Regions from separate parts of the Homo sapiens genome. Here region 1 is linked to region 2. The links come from fine-mapping of genetic effects on gene expression. Tissue or cell type: whole blood. Region 2 holds a variant in brackets; the other region holds the start of a gene. All regions are shown on one strand. Distances are between the middles of the regions. Region 1 holds the start of SYK (spleen associated tyrosine kinase). Region 2 has its middle 25 kb from the start of SYK.

Region 1 (13,974 bases), 24 kb after region 2:
TATAACATGAATGAAAACATTATGCTAAGTAAATAAGCCAGTCACAAAGAGCACATATTACATCATGCAATTTATATGAAATGTCCAGAATAGGCATGTCTACAGAGACAAAAAGTAGATGGGAGGTTTTCCTAGGGCCTTGGATGGGGAGGAGGGAAAGGATTGTGTGGGATGGGAAGCATGAGAAGTGATATGGGTATGGGGTTTTGTTTTGTGGTTTAAAAAAGTTCTTCCAGGTGCAGTGGCTCACATCTGTAATCCTAGCACTTAAGGATGCAGTGGCAGGAGTATAGTGTGAGCCCAGGAGTTTGAGACCTGCCTGGGCAATATAAAGAGACCCCATTCTTCACAAAAAAGAAAAAAAGTGCTTAAAAAAGTTCTAATATTGATAGTGATGATGGTTGTACAACTTTGTGAATACACTTAAAACAATTTAATTGTATACTTTCAACAAGTAAACTGGATGTTATGTGAATTATATCTTTTGAAAACTTAAAAATGGAACCGCACTTTGAAAAATATAAAAAAGAAAAAGAATGAAAAGATCTTGGTATGAGAAAAACCATCTAATTTTCACTACAGTGAAAAATAACAGCTGAACTACCTTCTAATTATATAATTATATTTTAAAAGAGTACTCTGTTAAGCAAATGATTAGCTACCCATTGAAATAGATGAAAGGGAGGAGTTATTTTTGAGCATAAGTTTTTTCCATCCTTTTGAATCTCCAGTGGCTTGGGTCATGTCTGGCAAGTAAAGGACCCTAATTCAATTATTGAATTGTTTGCTCCCTGGAATTTCACAAAAAAATAAGGAATCAGGTACACAGAGGAAACTTGACTTGCTCAGAGCTGCACACCTACAAAAAGTAGCAGAGCTGAGACTACTATGGCCCGTGCTTCCTGACCCGTGGCCAGTGCACCTACCGCTGGGTTTAAACACATGTGATCACACTTCAGACACTATCTTTGGTCTTTAAGTAACTTTTCTGTTTTGTTTGTTCAAAAGATTACTAACAAAAGAAAAATGAGGAAGTTTACCATTTGTAGGTGAAAAGTCACTTTTATATCTGGTTGAATTGGTTAGGGAATACCAGCAGAAGGAAGTTGTTCCTCTGGCTACATCCTGTGTCATTTCAGCAACTGGATGAATGTGATCAGAAGGTGAAAATCACTGAGAGAAGCCACTCACCTCCATCATGCTGGTCTATCAAAATTAACTTCCCTTCATAGGACACAATAGGGTTGTTACTTTTTTTTTAAAGGTATACCTACATATGAAAATAATTAATTTTATCTAAATTTAATGTAATATGCATAAAAATACACCTGATGCTGTCCTAACTATGCAATATTCTCCTTTGTGTGTCAATAAAAGTGTATTATTTCAATACATGGAGTTGGTTATTATTTTACTTGCAACCTAAAGCACCTTAACAGATATATCATGTGTAACTTGTGTATTTTTTTAATTTAGAAGAGACAAAAATGAGGACCTTACATTCTAAATATTAAAATGTGCAATCACATGAGTCCAGGAGTTTGAGACCAGCCTGGCAACGTAGTAAAACCCCATCTCTACTAAAAATACAAAAAGTCCCAGCTACTCAGGAGGCTGAGGTGGGGGAATCACTTGAGCTGGGGAAGCCAAGGCTGCAGTGAGCTGTGATTGCGCCACTGCACTCCAGTCTGAGTGACAGAGTAAGACCCTGTCACAAAAAAAAAAAAGTACAGCGTATATTCTATAGTAAAAAACATGTGGGCCATTACATTCTGAAAGAACATAGTGAAACATTTACAGAATATCAAGGCCTCACCATCTAGAAGAAAAGAATCCTTACTTTCCTCATCTTTCTACCTCAAGAAAAAAGGGAAGCGGGAAGAAACAAAAGTGCTAAAGTTACAAGTGGTAACCAAACAAGAAAAGGAGAACCGCTTAACAAAATGCACTTTGAAAAGCGCTGGCTCATATAAAAACCAGAAGTTTGAGAGTATCACAATGAGGCCACACTCCAACCTCCCAGAAACCATATATTGTGCGTCTACAAAATCCTGAACAATTCTCACTCAGATCTTGAGAGAAGAAGGGGCCATTGTTTATCCTTAGTTTTTCTCATTTTTGACTGTGGAGTAGTGAAAATGGCTGCAGTGGAGATTAGTGCAAAAGGAAATAGCAGCAATGTGGCATGATTTTGTCAGAGTGTGAGGACTCCAACGACCCACATTAATTGGGGGAATGAGCTGAAACTCACAGATGCCCCCAACCTCGCTGGACAGAGTAAGCTCAGCCTTCTCCCTCCCTCAATGAAGTGCGAAGCCTGCATGTTCCTCACAGTCTCACATTGGAAGGAGGGGCCCAGTTTGTGCAACACAACTCCAGCTAAGCCCACCCCCACCATTCCCACGCTCAAAGGTTATAGAAAATCAAGCTCAAAAGGAATATTAAGCCGTCATATGTAATCCAGAAAAGGGGTAAGAAAAGGCTCTGACATGAGGATTTAGGAGCTGCCACACACAAAGGGGCAGAGCAAAGTGAAAGTCTGAAGAAAGCTGCCAAGTATGGACAAGATGAAATCAATGAACTAGCAGCTATGCAAACCTTAAAAGAAAATAACATGCACAAATTAAAAATAAAATCCAGTCTGAAAGAATTTTTAAGTGCACAGGCTACAAAATTTGATAAGAGCCTGCATTCAATTTTTTAAAAAACTCAAGAACCGATTGAATAACCAAGAGAAAATAACTAAAAAGAGTGAGATAGAGAGAACCAGAGACAAAGAAATAATTTGAGGACCAATAAACCTACCTACAGGTAAATTAGAAATAACAAGAAATAAAGCAGACCCAGCTAAACATTTAGTTCCCGAAAAAAAAGAAAGGGAGAGAGAGAAAATCACTGTGAACCAGGAAGAAAAAACAAAGTAGATTACTACAATCAGAGAAAAGATAATAGACTTAGATGATAAAAAGTTAATTAATATCCTTGAAGAAAAGCACTTAACAAATAAAAAGGTATTTAAAATCACACAAGAAAAAATTCTTTGAATGAAGATCTAAATCTGCGCATTACAATGGTGGATACACAGCATTATATATTTGTTAAACACCATACAATATACAACACCAAGAGGGAACCTCAATGCAAACTTTGGGCTTTGGGTGATTATGATGTGCATTAAAGAGTGCATTGTGTTTAAGAAATAAAAGATGGCCGGGTGTGGTGACTCCTGCCATCACTTTGGGAGGCCAAGGCAGGATGATCACCTGAGGTCAGGAGTTCGAGACCAGCCTGGCCAACATGGTGAAACTCTGTCTCTACTAAAAATACAAAAAATTAGCTGGGCTTGGTGGCGGGCGCCTGTAATCCCAGCTGCTCAGGAGGCTGAGGCAGGAGAATTGCTTGAACCTGGGAGGCAGAGGTTGCAGTGAGCCAAGATCACGCCATTGCACACCAGCCTGGGCAACAAGAGTGAAACTCCATCTCAAAAAAAGAAAAAGAAATAAAAGATGCTGGTTGATCTGTATCAGTATATATCCTTGTCAAGTTTCTTAATATCTCAGTTAAAGAAAGTTTCCTCCAGCAGCCTGGAAAGAAGAGCAAGTCACCTAAAAGAGGACAAAGGACTGGCTGTTCTCACATTTCTCCAAAACAACATTCAATGCCAAAGGGGCAAGGGAGGAAAATCAACCGAGTCTAGGCCAAAGGGAAGTAGGATGGAGACACAATGTGCCCACCTTGATGTCACTGCAATACAACAGCAACAGAATAACATCCTGAAAGTGGAGAGCATTGATAGATGCAGTATGTGGGATCACATCTTCACAGAGTCCATCCAGCTCATCAACAAAGAAAGTAGGAATGAGATATGGTGGTAGAAAGGTCTGGAGGTGCATAAGGTATCCTTTTAAATGGAGAACTAAGAAGAGACCACTGAGGGTTTATGGTTACAGAAATCAAAAATTTTAAACTTAACTATGTAAAACTCATATAACTAGGGAAACGTGAGAGGTGAGCTGAAGTGAAGTGGAGTGAGAGAGGTAATTGGTTCATGTATCATAGCAGAGTTACTGATACTGTCTGAAATTAAAGCTCATGGTTTAGAAGAAATGACGAAAACTGCTTATTATTGTCACTTTTCTTTTCCTTTAATCAAAGTGGGGTCATTTCAGAAATGATACATTTGTGGCAAAGAATCATTTCTATAAAATCAGCAATTCTTTAGATCCCATTTCAGAATTTTTTATTCTGTTAAATTTAAGTAGAATTAAATATCATATTTAACATGGATAAAATGTATAATAAATGTATTATATTTAAAATGATGCCCATTTTTATATCTATTGCCATGTGTACATATAGAAAGAGATAATTTTGTAAGGGTCACCTAACGGTAATGATGATTATGTCTGAAATTTGGGATGTTTCTATTTCCTTTGTGCTTTTATTCTTTTAAGGGATTGCCTATTAGGAATACTTGCCACTGTTACCAAAAAAACTATTTTTTTAAATTAAACACTATTTTTTAGAGCAGTTTTAGGTTCACAGTAAAAATGAGAGGCAGGTACCGAGGTTTCCCATATACCCACTGACCTCACACATGCACAGCCTTTCCCATTATCAACAGCCCCATCAGACTGGTACATTTGTTACAATTGATGAACCTACTTTGACACATCATAATCACCCAAAGCCTGAAGTTTACACTGATGTTCCCTCTTGGTGTTGTATATTGTATGGTGTTTAACAAATGTATAGTGCTGTGTATCCACCATTGTAATATCATACAGCATACTTTCACAGCCCTAAAAAATCTCTGTTCTCCTTCTATTCATCCTGCCCTCCCCACCAGCCCATGGCAGCCACTGATCTTTTTACTATCCAGATAGTTTGGCTCTTTCCAGAATATCACCTGTTGAAATTATACAGTATGTAGCCTTTTCAGAGGGCTTCTTTCACTTGGTAATATGCATTTAGATTTCATCCATTTCTTTTCATAACTTGCTAGTGCATTTCATTTTAGTGTGGAACAATATTCCATTACACTGATGTACAAGAGTTTATATATCCATTCACTTACTGAATGACATCTTGTTTGTGTCCAAGTTTTGGCAATAAACTTAGTAAATAAAGCCAGCGTAAACATTTGTGTGCAGATTTTTGTGTGAACATAAGGTTTGAACTCCTTTGGGTAAATACCAAGAAGCACAATTACTGGGTACTACTTTAGGTAAATACCAACTACTTTGGGTAAATACCAAGAAGGACAATCCTCTTATAATTACTCATGTTGTAAGAGGATGTTTAGTTTCATAAGAAACTGCCAAACTGTCTTCCACAGTGGCTGTACCATCTTGCATTCACAACAGCAATGAATGAGTATTTCTATTGCTTCACATCCTCACTAGTGTTCACTGCGGTCAGTGTTCCGAATTTGGGCCATACTGATATCTTACTGTCTTCATTTGCATTTCCCTGATGATACATAATGTGAACCATCTTTTAGGCTAGGCATGGTGGCTCACGCCTGTAATCCCAGCATTTTGGGAGGCCAAGGCAGGCAGATCACGAGGTCAGGAGATCGAGACCATCCTGGCGAACACGGTGAAACCCCGTCTCTACTAAAAATACAAAAAATTAGCCGGGCATGGTGGCGGGCGCCTATAGTCCCAGCTACTCGGGAGGCTGAGGCAGGAGAATGGCGTGAGCCCAGGAGGCAGAGCTTGCGGTGAGCTGAGATGATCGGGCCACTGTACTCCAGCCTGGGCAACAGAGTGAGGCTCCGTCTCAAAAAAAAAAAAAATTACTACATGATACTAAGTAATGCGGAAGGTGACTCAAAGGGGGAAAGGAACACAGCAGTGTAAAGGAAGGAGGTTGTAGATGGATCTAGAATTTCCCCCTCATTTCCATCAGGTGAAAGCCTGAGAAAACTGCAATCTTTGTGCAGGCTGGGTTTGCTTTGTACACACTGGTCCCCTAGTGTTCATCTCCAATAATGCTGACAACTCTGAAAACCATCTGTAGACATTCTGCAGGCTCCATCTCAGGAACAATGGCTATTTTTTCGGGTAGTTGAAGCAAAATTAAGTCCAATGATAAGCAAATATAACCATTATCAAAATCTTCCATTTATGTTTGTTAAAGCAACCTAAGTATGATCTGAGAAGGACTCTGTATTCTATATTTGAGTCCTTGTGGATGAACTGTAACCTAGCTTAATAGGCAGACAAGATTGAAAACCTAATTTAGGAGTATGTGCCTTTAACAATAGCTGAGTCTTGGCCAATCCCAGTGGCCATACTTCAACCATTCATACACTGCTGAGTGTTCAAACTGTGTTCAAAGAAGGCAAAAGCCAACCTGTAACCAATCCAGTTGTTTCTCTGCCTTACCTCCAATTTCTGTATGTCACTTCCCTTTTTTTGTCTATAAATATGTTCTGACCATGAGGCATCCCTGGAGTCTCTGAATCCGCTGTGATTCTGGAAGCTGCCCCATTCGCAAATCATTCATTACTCAATTAAACTGCTTTAAATTTAATTCTGCTGAAGTTTTCTTTTAACAGGTTTAGAAAAAATAATGGCAAAAATGAATGAAAATCCAATAACCCTGGAAGCAGAAAAGGCTGGGGGCTCCAATAAGTGTAAATAGTCCCATCCCTATATTTTCTCCATGGCAATTACAATCCAGCACATTATATATATATTTTTTTGCTTCTCGCATTTTGGCTTAGGGTAAAGCTTTTTAAAACAGGCACTGCCAACCAGTGTTATCAAGAAGGTCTGGATGCCGTTTTGTGGGAACATTTTAAAGAGGAATGTCCAAAAGGAAAAGGGGGATGGGTTGGGAGAAGGGTATCAGGCGGGTATCTCAAAACCATTCTTAGGGCTATAGGTTTAATTTATTTGGTTGTGGACGTCAGAGCCGTCATGGTAAGAAGGAAGCAAAGCCTTTTGTAATAATTAAAGCCTTCAGAAGCAGCGTGCCCCATTGCCCACTAGTGCGCCGTGAAGTCTGGTGTTCACCTACAGGGTCCCTCTCAGCACTGCCCAGGCCTCCCGAGTGCTCCAGCACAGTAGCTTGGAGCTTGTTGGTTTGGTGACCAAGATACACTCCAGGGAATATGCCATGCAGTGGAGTCTCTTCCCCGGCACTGCATAGCAAAAGGAAAGGGCCGCTGGGTGTCTGTGGGTCCTGGGCAGTCACAGAAGCCACCGCGCTGGCGGGGAGGAGGGGGACCGATGCGGTCCATGTCCCGGGCAGCCCCACCTTCTCTGCCTGCGAAGGGCCCTTGTCCGGCGGGAGGAGAGAGGCGCGCCCCACCCGGGCTCCTCTACACCTGCCGCCGCCTGGGCCGATTCCGCGGGCCTCGCCCGGCGCTTCAGCCGATTCCCGCCCAGCTCCGGGCTCATGGGCGCGGTCAGCAGGGCGGGCCAGGGCGGCGGGGCGCGACACTGGGAGGAAGTGCGGGCCGCCTGCCCGGGCGCGTTAAGGAAGTTGCCCAAAATGAGGAAGAGCCGCGGGCCCGGCGGCTGAGGCCACCCCGGCGGCGGCTGGAGAGCGAGGAGGAGCGGGTGGCCCCGCGCTGCGCCCGCCCTCGCCTCACCTGGCGCAGGTAGGTGTGGCCGCGTCCCCTACCCGGCCGGGACTTTCTGGTAAGGAGAGGAGGTTACGGGGAACGACGCGCTGCTTTCATGCCCTTTCTTGTTCTACCTTCATCGGCCGAGGTAAAAGTGCTGAAACCATGTGAATAAAATACAGGTGGGTTCCGCCAGCTTCGCTCCTGAACCTACCCGCGCTCGGGATCCAGAAGCTGCGCCGGGAGAGAGGGGCTCAGGCCTGGGCGGAGGGGACGGAGGTCAGACCGTGCGGAAAGTGACCCGGGCACCCCAGGGCGCCCAGGCCCCCAGGGAGCGCGGAAAGTGCGGTCGCGGCCCGGCCCTCGGGAGACGCGGGATTGGGATCAGGCACAGCGCGAGGAAGTCGATCTTGGAGCTAGAACATTTTCCTTTGGCCATTTACACGAATCCACTGGAAAATGCCGCAGTGTTTATCAAAGTTACTCAAAGTAGAAATGTCCAGACGTCTTATGAGCTTAGACAAATCTTTTACTACAAAAAGAAACAGCAGTTGCATTCAAACAACAACCCTTCTGAACCACTACTAAAATTTAGCATAATTACTCTTGTGGATACATTTTCATTGTCAAGTAATTTACTTAGCCAATGAACTTGGAGAGCAAGAAAGTTTTATGTAGTAAAATGTAAATTTGAGTTAAGAGTTAAGGGTGTTTCTTTTTGTCTGTTTGTCTGTTTTTGGCAATGTGGCTCCAAAACCTTAAGCCCACCTAAAAACTATATAAATGCAATCCATTCTTTTGTTGGAATGTTCAAGGACTAGAAAGACAATTGGAGAAGTGAGAGTTTGAATCTTTTTTTACGTTGGAAACAGTGTTGCAAAATATTTTTTGAGTTTTGCCTGACTTAGCAAAGATTCAGTCGAACTCAAGTAGAGTTCAAAGCATTGCAGCGTGTAGTAAAAAAAAAAAAGAGTTGAAGATGTTGTGCCATATCTGATTCTTGGTATTAAAAATAAAAAAAGGAACCATTTAATCCCTAAGAGTTCCTGGAAGAAATGGAATTGATTCTACCATCTGACTTCTTTGTCTTAGTAGGGACAAATTCATTGCCTTCACACAGGCAGCATTTTAATTAAATGCAACTAAATACATTGATGTCCTCCTTCTCCCCAGTGAAAGTCCGAGCAGTGCATAGATAGAATTATATTTTCTCAAAAAGGCTTAAATACATGTAAATTATTAAGTGTTTTAAGTGAGAAATCTTTGTCAGTTGAAATTATTTTATCAAATCATTTTTGTTCTGAACGGCACTTTTGTTTTAACGTATTTAGAAAACTCTTGCATTAAAACAGAAATTGATTTGTATTATCCCCTGTATTTGAAGTGCACTTTAAAGTGTATTTGAATGAGAGATTATAATCAAATTACTTGATTTGTGTCTTATCCTCTTACTCTTCTACCTTGGATTTGAAAAGGTTGGATTTGAACACTAGGAAAAAAGAGATTTTTCTACTGAGGGATTGTGGGAAGATTTTTTTTTAAGCCTCTGTATTTGAAGTGAAATATAAAATAGGATTTTATAATAGTCTTAATAACTAGAAAGTTTTAAGCTAGGATAAAAATGGGGTGTATACTTTAGGTCTTTATCTTTCCTGAGAGATGAAATTGGTAGAAACGTTATTTTATTGCTAGATTTCACTTTAGAAATGAATCACCCTGATCTTTGTTAGGCCCCTATTTAATATTCTAAATGCAGGTCTAATCTCTCTGCTTTTTTTTAATGGAAGACTTCTTAGTAGAACTTCACTTATTTAGCACATTGTTTGCCCATGGTTATAATCCAATATGCTTGTGCCAAGACGTATTTTGGAATTCAAGCTTTTTCAGAATTTGGAATTAAAATTTAGAATCTAAATTTCAGAACTGAGAAAGACATTGCTCAGAATTTAGAAAGGTAAACATACATGTTGACCCTGCTGGTTACATGCCATTCCAATATAGTCTGGAGAGAATCCTGTAATTCCATGCATTAATATTTCTGTACTTTTACATTTAAGAACATGAATATTCTCACTAAGTGGAATAAATAAAGACTATAAAGAGCTGTGTGTCTGTTTAGAGCAGGTGTTATCACTACGAGAGCTTCTCTAAGACTTACCAAAAAAAAAAAAAGTGTTGTTTTTCAGAGCTTTTTAGAGCTGCAGCTGAGGGACTGAGTCTGTATTAGACTCCACTGAACTACGGTTTGCTTTTAAAAGGAAAGTGCATTTATGTTGTTCAATACTTCACACTTTCCAGTAATTAGAAGGGCAGTTCCTCTCTCTTTAGGGAGTCTTAAATAGCAAGATTTTACTGAATTTTCAATCATACCGATCAAAATAGAGGTACTTCAAGTAAGAGTGGATGTCTCATCTTTGTAATATAATTTCAAACAGCATAGTTTCTGACAGTCTACCATTTTAGAGAAACAGAGCAGAAGTTACTTACAGGAGGGGTTACTGTCACCCTTTACAGCTGCAGTCTGTCCATGGAAGAAATATTATTTCCTGTTAACTTTGCAACCAGCTGGGTTTGTGTCAGTTATCTAAGCCTAAGTGATGGCTAATTTTTACTTTCTCAACTTTCCCTGTATAGATTTTTTTCCAGCTACCCCCTGACTTTTCTACTCTTGCTTTGCTGGTTTTAACATTTTCCACTACTTCTGGATTGGTTTAGCTATAACTGGGTGGAGAAAACAACAACAACAACAGGAATTTAGGCCTTTGGGGAAGAATTTGTTTTGTTTTAGAAGTCTACACATTGAGCATTACTTTTTCTTCTAAAGCAACTAAAATCAGAAGGCAGAGTCCTAATGAGAGATTATGATCAAATTGCCTCATTTGTGTCTTATCACCTTCCTCTTCTACTTAGATTTGAACAGGTTGGATTTGAATACTAGGAAAAAAGGGTTTTCTACTGAGGGATTGTGGGAAGATGTTTTAAGAACTAGTCTGATTGGATTTTAGGAAAGTTCATTCATTTTGATATGATGTTATCAGGGACATTTTCTATTTGCTTATAATTTTATCTGACCAATATTAGCTTGTATCAATTTGAGGTTTTTTTTTCCTTTATGAATCAATTGTGCAAGGTTTGCCCTACATCTCTTAAAAGGTGGTTAAACTGGAATCTTAAAGACAGTTGAATTTAGCCAAGACCAAAGATATGCAAAGAAAGAATATTTTGTTTATGTTACAGTACATTTAATAAATCCAAATGGCTCCCTTGATTCTTTTCTTTCTGGGACACCACGTATTGATTTCTGGCAGCTGGCCAAAGGCAGATGGTGGTGGAGCAAGCGAGGACAGTTAAGAATGTTGATGATTACTGGATTACTGAGGAGTACTGTGAGCTTTCTGGTCCTCTGCTCAGAGGTGTCTAGCTCTGAAACTGGGATCCTGGCTCTGAGCTGGAGAGGCGCTTCCAGTTACTGCTGTCCTGGAGCGCTGGAAGGGAGCATAAGTGTGAGGAGACAGTGGGCTTTTAGCCTGGGATGCAGATGAGAGATGTCTTGACCTGAGTGAAAACCTTGCAGGCAAGCTGCAGGTCTACCGAGCAGGGTGAGGGAGGCTCTCGACCTGGATACTGTGAACTAGGGAGAGAAAGTAAATTCAACAGAAGGAGGGCCCAGGGCAGAGATTTAGGAATATCCACAGTTTAAATATTGCTTTACTTAAGTATACTCTGCCTGACTATAAGTAGCATTTGAATGTTCAACATATGACCTTTCATTTCTCCCCTCCATTGGTTTGTCTTAACTGATAAATCTTTATTTTCCCATGGTCAACCTGGTAGTTTATTAATATTACATCTATCAGTTCCTGTTGAGTTGACATGAAAATGTTTTGGTGTGACCTAAGTTAATTTCTCTTTTTGTTTAATTTTAATTTGTAATGAGTTCCTCTTTTCATTCTGCCCATCCTTTGGTACTGCTTTGAGTTATGTCCTCTAGAATTCTCACTATTTCCTTATGATTGGCATATTTTCAAAGTTTTTTGGTGTACTAATTTTAAACAGTGTTTGTTGACACTGAGAATTCAGGACTTTGGAGTTTTAGACCACCATCACCTTCTACTCCTTCTCACACCATCCCAGGATAATTATTCTCTCATTTGAGATTAAGAAGTTATTTGGTTTATTTTATTATGGTTATATAAATATAGTTTACTGCTAAAGCAAGGTATATCATTCCATTTTCTATCTCGTACCCCTTTTTGCTCTTCCTGGGGTAAACCCTTGCTTTGTTTTTGTGTTTTCTTAGTTTGCACTGTGCCTATTATCATTTCCTTCCCAACTTTCTGACATAAAGATGAAAGCCCTATTGACACAATTTTCTACAGTGTCAGATATACCAAGTAATCTCACGGTTCCATTTTTCTTTCTTTTTTTCTAGAACCCTCCATCTTCTTCTTGTCTAACAGTTGCTCTTCAGTCTTGCTATACATACAGTAATACCTGAAGAATGTTTGGAGGATATTTGGTGTGGGACTTTTCTTTTTTTTTTTTCTTTTTCTTTTTTGTAGAGATGGGCTCTCACTATATTGCCCAGGCTAGTCTCAAACTCCTGGGCCCAAGCAATCCTCTTGCCTCAGCCTCCCAAAGTGCTGGGATTATAGGCATGATCCACTGTGCCCAGCCCTATGGGGAATATTTGTTGACTAAATATGTTTTATGTAAATTGCTTATCATACTCTTTGTTGTAACATCTGTGGCATTAATATGCCTCTTGTTAACACTCACCTACATTTTACCTGTTGTAAATCCACTGTCATAATTATTGAAAATATTTCTCCAGAGCTTTTTAATTCTATGGTTATTTATTTATTGTAGTATAGAACTTTTATGATTTCTTCCATCAGGGTGCATTCTGAATCATGCTTAGTGAGAGATGGTTTTTAACTCCACTTTAACAGTTAGCATCTATGTTTTACATCAGTGTCAATGTCACTTTTGTATTATATACGACACCAACATTTTATTATCTGAGTGATGAGAATGTTTATTTTTGTGGAAATGGAGATCTCATGAGACTTTAAGCAGATTGCTGGCCTTCTCCTCGATTTCCTTGATTGATTCCTGAAGTGGAACTGCAGTGCTAAGTGGAATTCCCTGGGAAGCTTGCTCAAGTAAGTAAGCATGAGAAATGCTGAATGAAATAAAGTGCAGCAAGCAGGGATAAATATCATGGGCATCTTCAGAGCCTTTGTGCAGGTAACATGCACAGAGATTCTCTGAGAGAGTCAGTCTCAGCCAGTGGTCCTACACTTCCATGACCCTGCAGTGCGTTTGTTCTTAGAGTGGCTTTCAGGGCTGGCTCTGCCACAGCCTCTTTGGGAAACCATGCATGACCTCTTGCTGCTCCTTACCAAGCTCCTTAGGCTTTGCTTGGTAGAGGCAGAATGTTGTGGTTGTTTTCATCTTAAATGCTAACAATATATGAATTATGTGGTGGATACACTGCCTCAAAGTGACATTTATCGAATATTTTTGTAGCTACGGGTTGAGAGTAAGGGTCTGAGGCCCCACTGGGTTCAAGTCCCCCTTCTTTATTTGTAAGCTCTTCTTTTGTAAATGGAGCAGTCACAGGGGGCTTCACTCTGATACCTAATGGAGACCGTGCCTGCAGTGCTCGGTACCTGGTATGTGGTTAAAACTGACATAACTGTCAGAGCCTCTCCCAGGCGGGCTGACTCTGGGAATCTGCCCTGCAGTCTTGGAGGGAAGGCACGTCCAGATAGGTTTGATGAGCAACTACAATTGCCAAAGTTAGTTTCTCTGACCTCCAAGATGGGAGAACTTTCTAATATTTTCTTTTAGGAAAGTTGTCCATTGCATAACTGATACACGAGTACATATCCTTTAGTACAGGATTCAGATACAGCGAGCAACAGAAAAGCCCTTCTTAACCTCCACCCTCAGTCCCAGCCCTGCCCCCAGTCCCACTGTTGGGGAGCAGTTGGAGCTCTAACCTCTCTTCTTTCGTCCTGTGCATTCATGTGTGCATGTGTGCACGTCTTCAGAAGATATAATGGTGGGCTGTGTATGTCTTCTTAATACCTTTATCACTCTGGAACTTTCTTTTTATTAATATGTTGGGGTGCGGGGAGGTCTCCATATTCAGTGATTATTGTAATTTTTATGACAGTCCAGAATAGGCATGTCGATTTTTTTTAATTTTTGATATTATAAACAGTGCTGCAATGAATGCACTTTTTCTTTTCATTCTTTCCCTCTCCTTTGCCATTTGCACTGTGTTTTCATGAAACCATCAGGTTAATCTTTATCTCAAGGAAGCCCTTCATCCCTGTCCATCCTGTTCTTCAGTCCATCCACTTAGTTTTCCTATGATTATTTTA
Region 2 (16,728 bases):
GCCAGTCAGTTTGGGGCTCTCATCTGGGCATTCCAGACACTGATCTTGTGACACTTTCTTGGGATGGGTAACCCTGAGGAGGAAGAGGGCTTAAAGCTTATGCTAATAATTGCACTTTTTGGCTATTTCTTATGGTTTTGCCTCTTCTTCTCCTTTGTCACTTTTGTTCTTAACTCCAAAAACCGTCTTTAGGAGTTGGATTATGGGGGTGTGAGACCCCCTTGCTGCTGCTTTTTGTAGCATTTTCCTGATGTCAGGGGAAGATTGAGTAATAAAATGCATACCCAGGAGAGCCTGCCTTTCTGAGGAGTCTGGATCTGTGTTAGTATATTTCTTGAGTGCCTCAACCAAACGACCCTGAAACAGAGTGGGACTTTCATATTTTCCCTGAGTTATTTCTCTAACCTTGTCATAACTCATTGGCTAAACCACACCCGTTTCCCACTGCATTTCTTCCATAGCACAGCAAGTAAATGATAATACTTGCAAGTCATGACAAGTTAAATTAAAGAACATGGTCAACTTAAAAAACTCCTCTATAAACTTTTCTGGATCCTCTGAAAACTAGCCAAATTTTTTTTGTTAAATACAGCCAAATCAGACATAGAAAATAGCACATGTACTCTAAGTGCTCCCCAATTTTCATCAGCTACTTCTTGCAAGGGACACAGGTTTGACTTTTAGGGGCTGATATGGGGTCCACTTCTGGAGGTATTGGTTGGGCTTACTCTTTTGAGCAGTAAGAAGTATAGGCTGGAGCTAGCTGGATAAGGGGGAGAGGTGCCTGATGACCTTGGGATGGAATCCTTTGTTAGAGAACTGGCAGGACCCTCCTCAGAACGGCGGCACTGAGGAGGCTCCAGGGAGGGCATAGGCCTTCTGTGAGAGCAGCTAGGAATGCCACTTGATGCAGGGCAGGCCAGTCCCAAAACTGGGGCTTAGCCTGGGAAAATTGTTGGCTTCACTCAGGAAAGGTTTCAAGAATGAGCTGGTGGTAGAAAAAAATGGCTTTTATTGGGGCAACAGTGTTACAGCTCTGTGACTGCCTCTGCAGAACCAGGATACCTCAAAGGCCGTGTGTTTGAGTAGCAGTTCAGAGGCAGTTCTCCAGTTATATTTATACATACTTTTAATTACATGCAAATTAAGGGGTGGGTTACTCAGAAATTTCTAGAACAGAAGTGGTAACTTCCAGGTGTTGGCACGGCAGTCGTAAACCATCATGGTGCTGGTAGGCATGCCTCTTCCCTGTTTCAACCAGTCTTCAATCTGGCCCGAAGTGAAATCCCACCTGCCACCTCACCTCCAGTGGTGTCTGCAGTGACATTTTGTTCCCTCTTTCAAAATCGTTTTCAATGGGGTCTCTTGTGGGTGGGGCATTAAGCACAAGTGCTCAGCCAACTGCACTGAACCAGAAATTCTGCATCTGTGCTGACCAGAGATGCTTTCTGGAAAACCAAGTGTATAAACCATGGGGACCATGGGACACATGTCACGCTGCTCTCTCACACCTTCATGTATGTCCTTTAGTGTTGCGCAGCAGCAGCCTCTAAGGGAAGCAGCCCTGAGATGTACTTTTAAAACATTTTTACTATTTCATTTGATTTTTTACAACTATGAGTCACAGATGTTTTACTGGGGAAAAAAATATGTAGAAGACATGGCTGGATGTGTGTTATGAGAAAGAGGTCAAGTGCAAATGAGAAAAAGAGGAACTCATGAACCTCTTCTGCCTTTTGGTGAGTGGCCAGTCATTTGAAACTGTGAAGCAGAAGGTAGTGAGGGGCAGTTGTTCCTGTGGGTGCCAAGGGGAAACTTCCTCTTTGCCCTTGGAAGGGTCACTGAAAATCAACTGACAAGAGACAGATTAATTGGAGAAAAGGCACACATATTTATTAATGTGCACAGGAATCTTACAAAGATCTCCAAGAAATGGTAAGGAGGTTGAGACTTTTACACTATCTTTTTAAAGGCTTTTGATATAGGGTCTCACTCTCTTGCCCAGGCTGTAGTGCAATGGCAGGATCATGGTTACTGTAGCCTCAAACTCCTGGGCTCAAGCAGTCCTTCAAGCAATCCCGCCTCAGCCTCCTGAGTAGCTGGAACTGTAGGCCTGTGCCACCATGGCTGGCTAATTCTTTTCACTTTTTGTAGAGATGGGGGTCTCGCTATGTTGCCTTGAACTTGAACTCCTGGCCTCAAGTGATCCTCCTGCCTTGGCCTCCCAAAGTGCTGGGATTATAGGCAGGAGTCACCACATCCAGCCTATACACAGCTTAAGGTTACAGAAAAAATGTGGGCTTGGAGTACGGCCAAAAACTGGTTGCGGTGGTAAATCAGGTTATGATGTCAAGGCAGGTTATGGGAGGAAGAGAAGAGGAGGTCTGGCTTGCAAATGTGGTCTTATTATACAGGTGAAACCTTACAGGTAGCAGTCCTCAGAGAGAATAGATGGTAAATGTTTATTTCAGAAATTTAAGGTGTCAGACTCTGTTAATCTTTTCTTGATCTGGACAAGGGTTAGCCTCAGAGAAAACCTGGCTGCACCATGCTGATTCTGTACAGATGCAAATCTCCCCGCAAAGGACAGCTTTGCAAGGCTACCTCTGTTTGCAGGCCCTCTGAACAGCCACCTCAAAATATGTCAAAGAAGGATATTTGGAGGTGAAATATTTTGGTTTCCTCCATTACAAATCTGGATCTGACACAAGATAGTACCATTTACTCAATGTATAGCTTGGGCCAAGTTGTTTGAATTCTCTGTCCCTCAGTTTATCTGTAAAATGAAGAAAATAATAGCACATACTTCACAGAGTTTTATGACAATCTAATTAATATAAGCAAAGCACTTCTAATAATGCCTGGCACATTGTAAATAACCAACCTGTTATTAGAAGACAGAATCCATGGATTTACTGTTAGTATAAACAATGTGCTCTCTGCTACACAGAAAAGCAGTCTCCAAGGGGAGCATCCATTTTCCATTTGGAATTCAAGCAGAAGCAGCGTCCCTGAGCCAGGAAGGTGGGCCACAAAGAAGAGAAGGTAGATCCATGTGTGCAGGGTGGGGCCATGGCTGTAGCAGCAATGCCCATTCCTGGCCACAAGCACAGATGAAGGTGCTACCAGGATCCAGAACCAGGCACTGAAGAGGGAAGTGGGCAAGCCATGTAAGTGATCACAAAGCACTTAGGTCACGAGAAGAGGCGACCCAGACCCCACTCCCCTAACCATCATGACAAGAAGGAAGAACCAGCTCCCTGCCAAGGGGAGCTTTTTAATTAGTATGTTCATTTAACTGATGCCAGCTCTCATTTCAGAATGTAAATTCAGTCTTTCCCAAAAAATCCTTGGATATCTTCAGGAAGTCCCAAGTTACTGTTAAATGTGGACACTTTCATCCCTTCTACCTTGGCTTTTTCAGAAGCAGACGCAGATTTGAGATCCCAGTAGAAAGAATTTATTTGGCAGGTGCAAGGTACCCCAGCAAGGGAGCAGGGACATGGGACCAGGAGGGGAAGGTGAGACCAGGAAGGGAAGGCAGCGCATTTGTGAGCCGCTGGAGCACAAGGAAACTGCAGAAAAATCTGTGCTTCTTCCTGAAGGATGAGGGAGCTGGGACATTCAGACACCGGCCTGTCAGTCATTGGTGGAGGGCTGCCAGGGCTATTAATTCCCTAGCACTCAAACCACCCTGGACATGGGCAGAGAGGCCTCCTGAGGCTTAGGAGAATGTCCTCAGGCAAAGAAGAAGTTGCAACTCAGATAGAACCCCCCAGGCCAGAGGGGTGTGAGTGAGTCACCAACAGTTCCTGTTACATTTACATTTAGGGAGAAGATTCTGGAACCCAACATAGATAGATCAAGGTAAAGAGCATCCCTCCCAGAAGGTTGCCAGGATGCTCTAGAGCTCATGAGATTTGCTCTTGCTGACACTGAGAAGCAGGAAGGAGTAGGAATGGAGAGTGCAGACTTTGAAATCCGCCCATCCGGGGCTGCTTCCCTGCTCTGCTCTCATAGCTCTGTGATCTTGCGCAAGTTCCGTAGCACCTCTGGGTGAGTTTTCCCATCTGTAAAACGGGGATGATGATAATACCTGTAGGGCTGTTGTGAGGACATAACACAGTCATACAGATAAAGCACTTAAAAAGCACCCAGCCCTTAAGCGCTCAAACATTTGTATTCTACATCTTTTGTCAATTGCCTTTGTTTAGAAATGCTCTGGCATGTTGGGTGCTCAAAAGATGTTGACAGTAATTTATTCACTACGACACACCAAGAATTAATGAAATATTGCTAAGAAAATAAAAACTAGTGTTCATCACATCCTGCGATGTGATGTCTCTTCAGAGAACCAGGCGAGGGTATGTGGCCAATGAACAGCCAATGAAGTCACTGTCAGAGTGGCTTTGTCACCCAAGGAGCCCCTACTAGTTTATTAGGGCAATCTGACTTTCAGATCTGAATCCTAGCAGTGTATGGATATAAAAGATACCAAGTCTAAAAATAATAATTATAAAGATCTTAAAAACAACCTGTGACACTCACAAATCCGTTTGACTGGTAATTTTTGAGACATTGGACCATATCTAATACTTGGCAACAGGGCACCACTGTGCTATCATGAAGCATCATCATCAGTTCCAGCGAAGGTGAAATGGTTTCTATTATAGGCATGTTAATAACTTCTATTAATAGAGGCGAGGAAAAGCACAAAACCTTTATCTCTTCTTTTCATGCATGGAATAAAATGAGAACTCTATATTACAAAAAAAAAAAAAAAGATTCCCTTTCTAATGCCATCCAAGGAACAATATTCTAAGTGTGCCTACTGAGACAGGATTTCATCTGAATCTATTGCTATGTATTCTCCAACATCCCCTCCAAGAAGATTAGACCATTTCCAGCTGAGACTGGTTTTTGCTAGCAGTGGTTAGATTTTCACAGTTCCCAGCCCAGGGGAAGGGAGGGTGCCTCCCTGAGACTACATTGCCCTCTGCTGCCCATCCAAGGCCAAGTCAGGTAGGGAAGGCCTCTGGGGAATTACATTTTAAAAAAATAAAGTTTATGAAAATTATACATGAGATTTGCATAAAAGGTGAAGTGAGGTTGTTACAGTTGCAAAGTCTCTCACTCTCCAGGGGCAAAATCAGGAGGTCAGAAGTGCACTTGGAACTATCGGGATGGTGAGGGTCACATAGGAAGTGTGGGTTTGGAGTCAGGCTCACGTTGTGCTGGTACTAGCTGTGCCATCTTGGGCAAGTTGTCAACCCCTCTAAGCATCAGTTTCTCATATGTGAGATGCGATAATCCCTGGGGCCACTTATCCAAAGATTAAAGAATAAAATGCACATCAAGTTGTAAGCAGAGTATGTGACACTTCGTGTTCTAACAAATGTTGGTTATTATTGCTCCAACTTCCTCCTTGCAGATGCAGAAACTGAAAACTCTCAGGACTTGACATAGGGACCCAAAGTCACATGTCTGCCTAGGGATGAGGAGGGGAGTCATCCCAGGCCAAACCTCCCACTGTCCCCAAGGCATCCTGGGCTTTCATGAGCATCTTTAGCTCCATCCCCCAGTCACAACCCATCTCAGTGGACATGTGTCCTGGACACTGCGCCTGGCCTACCCCACTGCCCCACACAAGGAAACATTCCCTGTGGGCTGGGCCTAACGCTTTGCTCACATTTGCCCCCTACAGAGCAGTTCACCTGGAGGGTAGCACAGGTGCTATTCCCAAAAGGCCATGTGAAGCTAGTGCAACTGTCAAAGTGAGGAGGAAATTCCATAGGCCATGAGCAGCTGGGCTGGGGCGGTAGGCTCGAGGGCAGGGGCTATTAATGACTGAACCATAGAAAAGTCCATTTGTCCATTTTTCTATTCATTCACTCCCAAGTATTTTTTGAGCAGCACATGCTAAGCAAGTCTTCTCAGCACTCACATCGAAGAAAAGAGGTGGCCCTGGTCTGCAACACCCTTGGGCACCTGGTAGGAGGCCTGGTTCCCCTTTTATGTGGTTTGTCACACTCTCAGGACTGTGACCAAAACCAAATGAGGGCATTCCCATTAGATCCTGCTGAGGGAGCAGTGCCTCCAGTAAACAAGCTTGAGCAGGTGTGGTTCATATTAACTGAGAACCTCATGCCACCAAACAACACATGTGCTAGCAAGGGTTGCCCACACGTTGCCTCAACACCAGCGCTTGTCCTTCCTGTGTCCTTCCTTCTGGACAGCCACACAGCACTAGGGCCATTGTGCAAGAATCATTCAAATCGCCACCACTAATGGGTTTGGATTGAAATTCCAGAAATAATCCCAGCTTCACTACTTACTACCGGTATTCCTTCAATGGAGTGATTAATCTTTCCTGTCTCCAAATTCTCATTGGATCATGCGAGTGACAATACTTATTTTGCAAAATTTTTGTAAGAATTAAAGACAGAAAATATAAAGCCCCTGGTTGCCTACACAAAGTGGACACTGAGGAAATAGGAGCCATTGTTACTATTTCACACCTAAACGAAATACACGTATGGACAGAGTATATGTATAAATTCACATACACATATTGATGCATATAAAAATATGCATGCCAATTTCTGTTGCTGTATATAAAATATATAGTATTATACTGGAAAAGCGCAAAGAACATACACTGTAGAGATTATAAAAACTAAATATGTTTATCTTGCCAAATACAACGTTTGAAAAGATACTGCTTTGGGTCATGAAGACAGTTGCTTTCTTATCTCTTGAGTTAAGGAAAATATATATTTTATGGAAAGCTATGGAGGTAGCTACTAACTAAAAGCAAGACTTAAACTTCTTTTGAGGAATAAAATCAGTATCCTCATTTTTTTAATATTCTGAGGAAATAAAAGAGAAATCACATGTATGAATACATAGTTTAGGTCAACTTACATTTCTGCAATGTAGGATGCTGTAACCATGCTGTAGAAATATACTCCTACTAAAACCCTCAGCAGTCATCCCTTCCCCACCCCGAAAAAGAAGGTGTTTTTCAGTAGCATCTGCTACTTTCAGATGGTCAAGTGATGGCAGAAGTGATTTACAGTAACCACGTGCGTAAGGATATAGGGGCAGCCTAGCCTATGATCTCAGGAGCCAGACTGTCTGGCTCTGCCACTTCCTAGATGTCTGATCTTGAGAACCTTTTCTGCCAACCTGTGCCTCAGTTTCCTCTGCCAGAAAATGTAAAGAATAGCACCCTGACCTTATTTCAGATTTAAATGAGTTGATGCTTAGAGAACAGAACATAATTAGCACTGTTTGTGAAATAATGCTTTTTGAATTTATTGGCATTTTAAAAGTCCTTCAACTGAAAAGAGACCTCAAAGACTCTTGGAGAAATTGCACTTAACAATAAGGAAATAGGATACTTTATCAACCCAATAAGGAGCATCTATAGAAAACTTATAGCCTGTGTCATACTGATGGTGACATGAACACTTTTCCCTAAGATGAAAAAGGAGGTAGAAATGTTCACATCCACCAGTTCTACTCAAGGTTGTACTGGAAGTTCTAGGCATTGCTATAAGGCAAGAAAAATAAATAATTAAATAAAAAATATAAAGCTGGAAAAGGAAAATAAAACTTCCTCCATTTGCAGATGACAGGACTGTTTACATAAAAAAAACTAAGGAATTTACAAAGAAACCACTATAACACAAAAGTGAACTTACTAAGGTCTCAGGATACGAAGTAAATATATAAATTTCAATTGCATACTTATATAATATCAATAAAAAATGGTAAATGAAACTTACAAAAAAACCACATACCATTTTATAATAATATAAAATACTTAGAAATAAGTAAAGATGTGTAAGACCTGTACACTGAAAACTATAAAACATCACTAAAAGAAATTAAAAAGGACCTAAATTAATGGAGAGTTATACTATGTTCATAGATGGAAAGATTCACTATTGTTAAAGTATCATTTCTCCCCAAATTTACCTATATATTCAATACAATACCAACCAAAATCCAAAGAGGGCTTGTTTGTAGAAATTAACAAGCTAATTTTTTAATATTTATATGGAAATGAAAAAGACCTACAATAACCCAAACAGTCTTGAAAAATAAAATAGGGAAATAAATACCTAATTTCAAGTCTTAATGTAGTATGGTAATCAAGACAGTATGGTATTGGTGTAAGGATGAATAGATAATTAAACAGAATAGAAATTCCAGAAGTAGACCCACATGTATACAATTACAAGATTTTTGACAAAAGCATCAAAGCAATGAAAAAGGGAAAAGGAAAGTCCTTTCAAGAAATAGTGCTGAAACAACTGGATATTTGTGTAGAAAATTAATAACTCACTTCCTATTTTACACTATACAAAAAATTAATTCAAGATGCATCAGAGTTCTATTACACATAAAAGCAATAAAATTTCTCAAAATAATAAGAGAATATCTAATGTGGTAGGCAAAGTGTTCTCAGGCTGGTAAAAAACAGCACTCATCTAAAAATAAGAAAATTGTTCCATTTCATTTAATCAAAATTAACTTCTGCTTATCAAAAGACAATGATAAGAAAATGAAAAAGGTAGCAGTAGATTAGGAGAAAATATTTGCCAAATATGTATCAGACAAATGACTTCAATCCAGAATATATCTTTTATAGTTCTACAAATTAATAATCAAAAGACAATCTAATTTTTAATGGGCAAAATATTGGACAAACACTTCATAAAAAATAACAGAAAAGAGTTCATAAGCACATAAAAATATGTTCAACATCATTGGTCATCAGGACAACTAAGACCACAGTGAGATATCACCATCCCCTCACTAAAAGATAGTCAGATAACATCAAGTGTCGGCAAGGATGTGAAGCAACTGGAGCTCTCATACACTGCACAAATCTTGTACACAAAATGATACAACCCCTTTGGAACCTTCTTGGCATTTTCCCAGACAGCCATCTGCTCTATAACTCAGGAATTCTACTCTTAGATCCTAGGAACTTATCCAAGAGGAATTAAAATGTAAGTCCACAAAAAAGACTCACACAAGAATATTCATAGCAGCCCTATTCAAAACAGAAAAAAAAAAAACTAGACATAGCTCAAATATCCATCAACAGAACAACAAACAAATAAATATATATCTCTGTATAATTACAGTTGAAAAAAACAAACGAACAGTTTTTCTCCTACCATACTCAGTACAGAACACTTCTGGTCATCAAAGGACAGCGGGGTGTCCTTCCACTCAGTT[T/C]TAATCCGATACTATCTACCTGGAGATAGCATCAGATCACAGAGGTTGAGGGCTTAGTGTCACAAAACTCTTCCCCGTTTAGATGCCAGACCCAAGCCCCAGGTTGTGACCTGCACTTCTAGCCAGTTATAAATCAGGATTTTCAGCCGGGTGCGGTGGCTCATGCCTGTAATCCCAGCACTTTGGGAGACAGAGGCGGGCAGATCACGAGGTCAGGAGATGGAGACCATCCTGGCCAACATGGTGAAACCCTGTCTCTACTAAATTACACACACACACAAAATTAGCTGGGCGTGGTGGCGCATGCCTGTAGTCCCAGCTACTCGGGAAGCTGAGGCAGGAGAATCACTTGAACCCAGGAGGCGGAGGTAGCAGTGAACCGAGATCGCGCCACTGCACTCCAGCCTGGTGACAGAGGGAGACTCTGTCTCAAAAATAAATAAATAAATAAATAAATAAATAAATATATAAGGATTCCCCCTCCTCAGGTTAGATAATTTGCTAGGACAGCTGACAGAACTCAGGGGAACACTTTACTCACATTTACCCATTTATTATGGAGGATACTAGAAAGGATACAGATAAATACTCAGATGGAAGAGATGCATAGTGCAATGTATGTGAGAAGAAGCGCAGAGCTTCCATTGCCACTCCTGGGGCACCACTCTCCATTGTTCACCAATTCAGAAACTCCAAGTCTTGTCTTTTTGGGTTTTTGTGAATGTTTCATTGTAATGTTTCATTACATACGCATAATTGATTAATGTATGGGCCCTTGGTGATCAAGTCAGACTTCAGCCCCACTCTTCTCCCCAGAAGTCCACTTGGGGCTGAGAGTTCCAAGCTGCTAATCACATGATTGGTTCCCATGGCAACCAGCCCCATCCTGAGGCTATCTAGGAGCTCCCCATCCCCCATCAGTCATCTCCTTAGCATACAAAAAGGCATTTACCATTTTGGAGATTCCAAGGCAGATAGGAGCTGTACGCCAGAAAACAGGGACAAGACCAAATACAGTGTATTTCTTATTATAAGTCACAGTTATCACAATCAACAAAAAATAAATAAACAGCATGGCTGAATCTTAAAACCATGAAGTTGAGCAGATGAAACTGGACACACAAGAGTACATAAATGTGAATGACAGAGCCTTGGGAGACGTAAAAAAAAACTACATAAATGTAAGGATCTCATTTAAATAAAGTTCAAGAACAGAGAAAACGAATCTCAGATGACAGAAATCAATTTTTTTTTTTTTTTGAGACAGAGTCTCACTGTCAGCCAGGCTGGAGTGCAATGGCGTGGTCTCAGTTCACTGCAACCTCTGCCTTCCAGGTTCAAGCTATTCTCCCACCTCAGCCTCCCAAGTAGCTGGGACTACAGGCATGTGCCACCACACTTGGTTAAGTTTTTTTGTTTTTTTTTTTTTGTATTTTTTAATAGGCTCTAGGGGATTGGGGACTGGCTGCAAGGGGACAATTTCTTAGATGATGGAAATTCTCTATGTCTTGATCACAGTGATGGTTACCAATCCAAACAAAAAGAGTCAAACTCTGTAAAATATTTAATATTTTATTATGAGCTAAATATGGGCAACCAATGGTCCATGACACAGCCCTCAGGACATCCTGAGGACTTGTGCCCAAGGTGGTTTTATACATTTAGGGAAACCTAAGACATTAATCAATACATTTAAGATGTACATTGGTTCAGTCTCAAAAGCAGGGGCTTCCAGGTCATAAGCAGATTCAAAGATTTTCTGATTGGCAAATGGTTGGGGGAGTTAATATCTTAAGACCTGGAATCAATAGAAAGAAATCTGGGTTATGATAAGGGTTTGTGAATGCCAAGGTTTATCATGCAGATGAAGCCTCCAGGTAGCAGGGCTTCAAAGAGAATAGATTGTAAGTGTTTCTTCTCAGACTTAAAGAGTCTACCAGTCTTCAGGTCTCTGTGTTGATGTTAATTCTGGTCAGCTGTGAGACATGTTCAACACCCTCTTCCCACCAAACCCCTACTTCCATCATGGATTGAACTAGTTTTTCAGGTTAACTTTAGAATGCCCTTGGCTGAGAGAAGGGGTCCTGATTGGGGGCTTAGAATTTTGTATTTGTTATACATTCTCCCTCTTCTGGCCAAGATTTGCCAGAAGCAACATCAATGGACACCAAACTTTCACTGTGTCCCATAGCATTGCCAAAGTGGCATGGCTGTCTGCTCTGGGTCCCTCCTGTCCCTCAGTGGGACGCCTATGGCCAAGGGACTTAGAGCCAAAAGATGCATAGCCAATGTAAACGTTCTAGGCCAGACAGGGATGGATGTAGACAGGTGTTCGCTAGTCCTTAAAACATTTTTTCAGTAATGCAAGAGCCTACAAACAAAAAGCCAAAGACAAGGTTACAAATTGACTTATCTACCTCTCAATTCTATATGTTGAGCTACTGTGATCTTGGTTTTAGTTACAGACTTATTGCAATTAGCTATACAAAACATAAGCACTATTAAAGCCTTTTAAGCTAAGGAATTCAGAGACTTTTGCTGTGCCTCAATGATTTTTGCAGTATTTTACTAATTTGTCCCAAGACGGCTGATAATAAACGTTAAATATATATATATAGGCCGGGCGTGGTGGCTCATGCCTGTAATCCCAGCACTTTTGGAGGCCGAGGTGGGTGGATCACGAGGTCAGGAGTTCAAGACCAGCCTGACCAACATGGTGAAACCCCATCTCTACTAAAAATACAAAAATTAGCCAGGCATGGTGGTGAGTGCCTGTAATCCCAGCTACTTGGGAGGAGAATTGCTTGAACCTGGGAGGCAGAGGTTGCAGTGAGCCAACATTGTACCATTGCAGTCCAGCCTGGGTGACAGAGCTAGACTCTGTCTCAAAAATAAATAAATAAATAAATAAATAAATAAAATATATATATATGCATAAATCTCATAACTGGGAGTATTATACCCAGCAAGCTTTGTCACAAAGTGTCTTTATATCCTCTCAGTAATTTTCTTTTAATTCTATGGGAAGCAGGAAATTCTTTACGGTTAGGATGGACAAAAGGGTGCCACATACATAATAACACAGGAGGCACAGTCCCTTATTTTACCAGCTGTTTAGGTATCTGTGATTTGGAGGCTCTAAACTAATTCTATCCCACAAAACTGGCCCTTGCAATCTCACACACTGACGTCTTACGTGATAGTCCCTGGGCCTAGAGGGAGGGTGCTTGTATAGTTTTAGCAGCAGGGCATTTGCAATGAAAGACAGATGGGGCCCGGTGGGATTCCAAATGAGGGAGATTCACAGGCTTTGTCAAATTATCTCTAGTCTTATGAATATATGATTCTAATTTTCTCAGAAGTAAAACTACATGAGATAAATAACATTAGTAAACTTGCTAATCAAAACAGAATCTGTGTGTCAGAACAGAAAAAGGAAACTATTTCATTAGGGCAACAACTAAAAACATGAAGAAAATTATAAGCTGGTACTTTTTAGAGGATTATTGTAGGAAGAGATGTAATTCGATCTGCACTCTAAAACAAGTCGGGGCTGGAATTCAGTAACGGGTGTTACAGTTTTCCCTTGAAACAATTTTTCTCTGATTCTCTAGCCCTCCTTTTCTACTAAAGAGAAATTATAGTAAGACCAATTTGTGTGCAGAATAAGTTTTTGGCTTATTACACTTGGCTTGATTATTCACATAAAGCGCAGCAGGAATTACTTGGTTTGAAATGCTTGTTCTTTGGTGCCATAAAGAAATAGCACTTGAACATAAATTTAATTTATTTAGTAAGGCCACTTTTACTTCCTGCAGAAAGGGTACACTCGCCAGCAGTTTTGCCATGAGAGTACACTGAACAAAGGAGACAGGGTCATTTATAACCTGACGTGTCCACCCTACTGTTGTGTCCAGTTTCCATTGGCTGGAACAAGAGCTCGCATTCTGTATTTGTCCTGATTGGCTAGCAACTTAGAACTTTTTAAAAGAGGCAAAGGTAGAGGGGAACAAAGGAAGGAGGAAGTAACTAGTGGAAGGCTGAGAAAGGTAAAAACACTTTTAAATAAGGAAGAGGAACAGGCTATGACCTAATGCTTGCTTGGACCAGTATAAGCATGCCAGGGCAAATATTTAGGCTAAATTGTGGGAGCTAGGAACATAAATTGTATATTGATTTTTTTATTATGGCTAGCAGATATTTAAGAATGTTAGCACAGGTCTTTGAATAAATTTTGCTTCTAAGAGAAGTTACTATTTATTCCTAATTAGACGGGGAGGAAAGTCTTTGAAGAGGAACCTCTACTTTACTTTTTACAGTTGGCCATAGAGACTCTTTTCAAGTTGACTTTGCTGGAGCTTCACCTAATAATGTTATTCTAGTCAAAGCCTTGGTATAATAACCAGCACCTGCAATTGTGTCCTGTTTCAAAAGAAAGGGCTCTTATTAAACATGCCTTTACATATCACATATTTATCAGTTTACTGTTGATTGCCTATCTGCCTGCTAAACTGTTTGCTTCTGCAAAATAGAGACCTTGCCTGTCCTGCACCCCCAGAGCTTAGGCCTGCATAATGCTCAGTAGACATTGCATATATAATAGATGTTGGAAGAAGATGCAGTTGGCAGAGAGATGTAAGGACAATTTCTCATTGTTTTGTCAACATAAAGTATGTATGTTTTATATTGGAAAGCTGAGATCTTGAAAAAACTGTATACAAAAATTTTTGCAGGTATGTCTCTGTTTCTCCATATTGAGCTTCCACTTTTGATGATTGTAGAAATGTGCTGTAGAATGGATTAGACCATGTTTTTTTGTTTGTTTGTTTGTTTGTTTTGAGATGGAGTTTCGCTCTTGTTGCCCAGGCTAGCGTGCAATGGCACAGTCTCCACTCACCACAACCTCCACCTCCTGGGTTCAAGCGATTCTCCTGCCTCAGCCTCCCGAGTAGCTGGGATTACAGATATGTACCACCACACCCGGCTAATTTTGTATTTTTAGTAGAGACGAGATTTCTCTATGTTGGTCAGGCTGGTCTCAAACTCTTGACCTCAGGTGATCTGCCCACCTCAGCCTCCCAAAGTGCTGAGATTACAGGTGTGAGCCACTGCACCCAGCCAATTACACAGTGTTTTAAAGACAAATAAATATGTGAATTTTGTATTAAAGTTCAGCTGCTCTTCACCTAAGAAATATTCATCAAGTAAGAAGTATCTGGCTTGGGTAATTGTTAACTAAAGAATCATGAGATTCATAAATTTGGAGAGGAGAGTGTTATTTCTTATAAAGGCTTGCATCCAGCAGGCTGCCCACTGTGCAGGCTGGGAAGCATAGCTTCTGGTAGAAACCAAAAGCAGGCACTTTGAAAGAGGGAAAGGTGAGACAGAAATTTGGGCTGAATGGGCTAGCTAAGTATACATATTCAATAGTTATAGGAAGGGCTGAGAATAATTATGAAGGGGGTGCACACATTCATAGCAAGCAAACATCCATGTTACATTCATCTCATATTCATTTGGGGTGAAGACTTACATTTAATTGCATTATAATTTCACTCTGTATGTCACAAAGTGAAAGCAAGGACACAGGGGCATGTTGTCTGCAGCCTGTGAATACCTGCCAGAGCCAGTCTACGGCCAGTGGTCTTTTATCAGGAAGGAATGCCAGTCAGTTGTTGTGTAAATCAGAGGTGAAGCGAGTCTTTCAAAAGAGCTGGTTTCTGTCTGTTAGAGAAGGAAGATTGATGGCAGTAAGGGAGGTGGCATAACAAGGCGTGTCCCACCTCCTGTGTGCCTGGCATGGCTGGCAACTCAGTTTTTAAGGCTTCTCTGAGGCTCCTTGGACAAAGAGGGAGTCCATTCAGTTAGTTAGGGGACTTAGAATTTTATTTTTATTTCTCAGAATTTATCTAGGAAAGTTAGATGGTAGATCGTAAAGGTGCAGAATGTCATGTTAATTTGGCTTGCTATCGAGATGTATCAGAGTACAACAATAACAGTGTTATCAGCTGTATACTAAAAACATCCTTGGTCAGCAATATCTCAGACATTTTCCAAGGACAAAAGTATTAAATTTCATAAAGAAATAGCACGCTTTCAAATAACACTCCCAGGGCTTGACACGTGTATAAGAAAATCTAATTCCCAGGCACATTTCCCAGTAAGGCCATGAAAATAGCCGCGGAATGTGAAATATACACGTGACTGCCATCCTAATTTGGATGTTTCTTTAACACCCACAAGAAGGATGATAACTTCTCTCCCCCTAGCTCCTATTACGCCACTCCAATATGCACCCTGGACCTCAAAGATCATTTCTCTTTCCTGCATCCAGATAAAAGGTCACGATTCCTGGTGCCTGGTGTGCTCTGGACCACAGTGTATTTCCCAAGGTAGTCACGACCCCTTTAATGGACCACAGTGTATTTCCCAAGGTAGTCACGACCCCTTTAATGGCAGACTCTGCCTGCAGACTGCTGGTGCTGAGAGGGTGCTGGTGCTTGTGCACATAGCAAGAAGTGAAATAGAAATGACTGAGTTTGTTTTGTGCAGCATCACCACTGTTCTCGTAAAGAATGAACTATATAAGCACATAAGAACTACAAAGTGCAAATTGTGTAATTTTGGTGATTCCGCATACGAGTCCAATGTTTTTATGTTTACATTTAAAACTGGCATAACAAATTCTATGTAAAGATAAATGGTAAAGTCCGTATTAATAATTTATAATTTCTATTTTTATTTAGTTAGAATGACATTCAATAGCAAATTTAAAAAAACACTGACATCTTGAAAGAGACAACAGAAGAGAAAAAAGGTTTTATATTTTAATACCTTTAATGGCCATTTTATTTTGCTTTTTGAACCAGGATCCATTTTTTATTTTGTACTGGGCCCCACAGATTATGAAGTTGGCCCTAGGCACAACCTCACACCACTACCTGTTCTGGTTAGCTATTACTAGGTAAGCTATGTAACATATTACCCCAAAACCTGGTGCCTTGAAACAACAATCATTCTTAAATATCTCACGATTTTGTGACTCAGAAGCTCAGGCGGAGCTCAGCTAGGTGATTCTTCTGCTTCACATGGCATTAACTAGGCACTCAGCTGGCTTTCAGGCTGTTAACACAGCCTTGGCAAAGATTGGGGAAGACTGGGCTCAGCTTTGCACCTCCAACTCTGCCCCACCCTTTGGCCTCTCCAGCAATCTTTGGAGTTCTTACATGGCAGTTCAGGGTTCCAAGAGACCAAGACCTAAGCTGTCCATCCTCTAAAAGGCTAGGCTTAAAATAAAAATGCCGTCACTTCTGCCACACTCTCTTGGTCAAAGCAGTAATAGGGCAGCCCAGATGCAAGAGGGAGAGTCTATTACACATCAGGAAACCAAGGCCCAGAGAGGCTCAGTAACTTGCACAAAGTCACACAGCTAGTAGGTTATAAACTTGGGAGTTGAACCAAATCTGGCTCCAC

What was found. PIP is the estimated chance that this variant, and not a neighbour inherited with it, causes the effect.
Region 1: SYK starts here. The variant in region 2 is fine-mapped to the expression of SYK in whole blood (TOPMed, PIP above 0.99).

Annotation. Positions count from the first base shown.
Region 1 is chr9:90,794,279-90,808,252 of GRCh38, forward strand. SYK (spleen associated tyrosine kinase) reads left to right here and starts at 7,541. Exons shown (of 14, transcript NM_003177.7): 1 at 7,541-7,615. RefSeq lists an enhancer at 656-825 and silencers at 7,290-7,499, 7,520-7,679.
Region 2 is chr9:90,768,808-90,785,535 of GRCh38, forward strand. No RefSeq gene overlaps it. Among named protein-coding and RNA genes, the nearest start is that of SYK, 25 kb to the right of the region's middle. RefSeq lists an enhancer at 5,900-5,959. The variant T/C (reference allele first, on the strand shown) is at 9,256.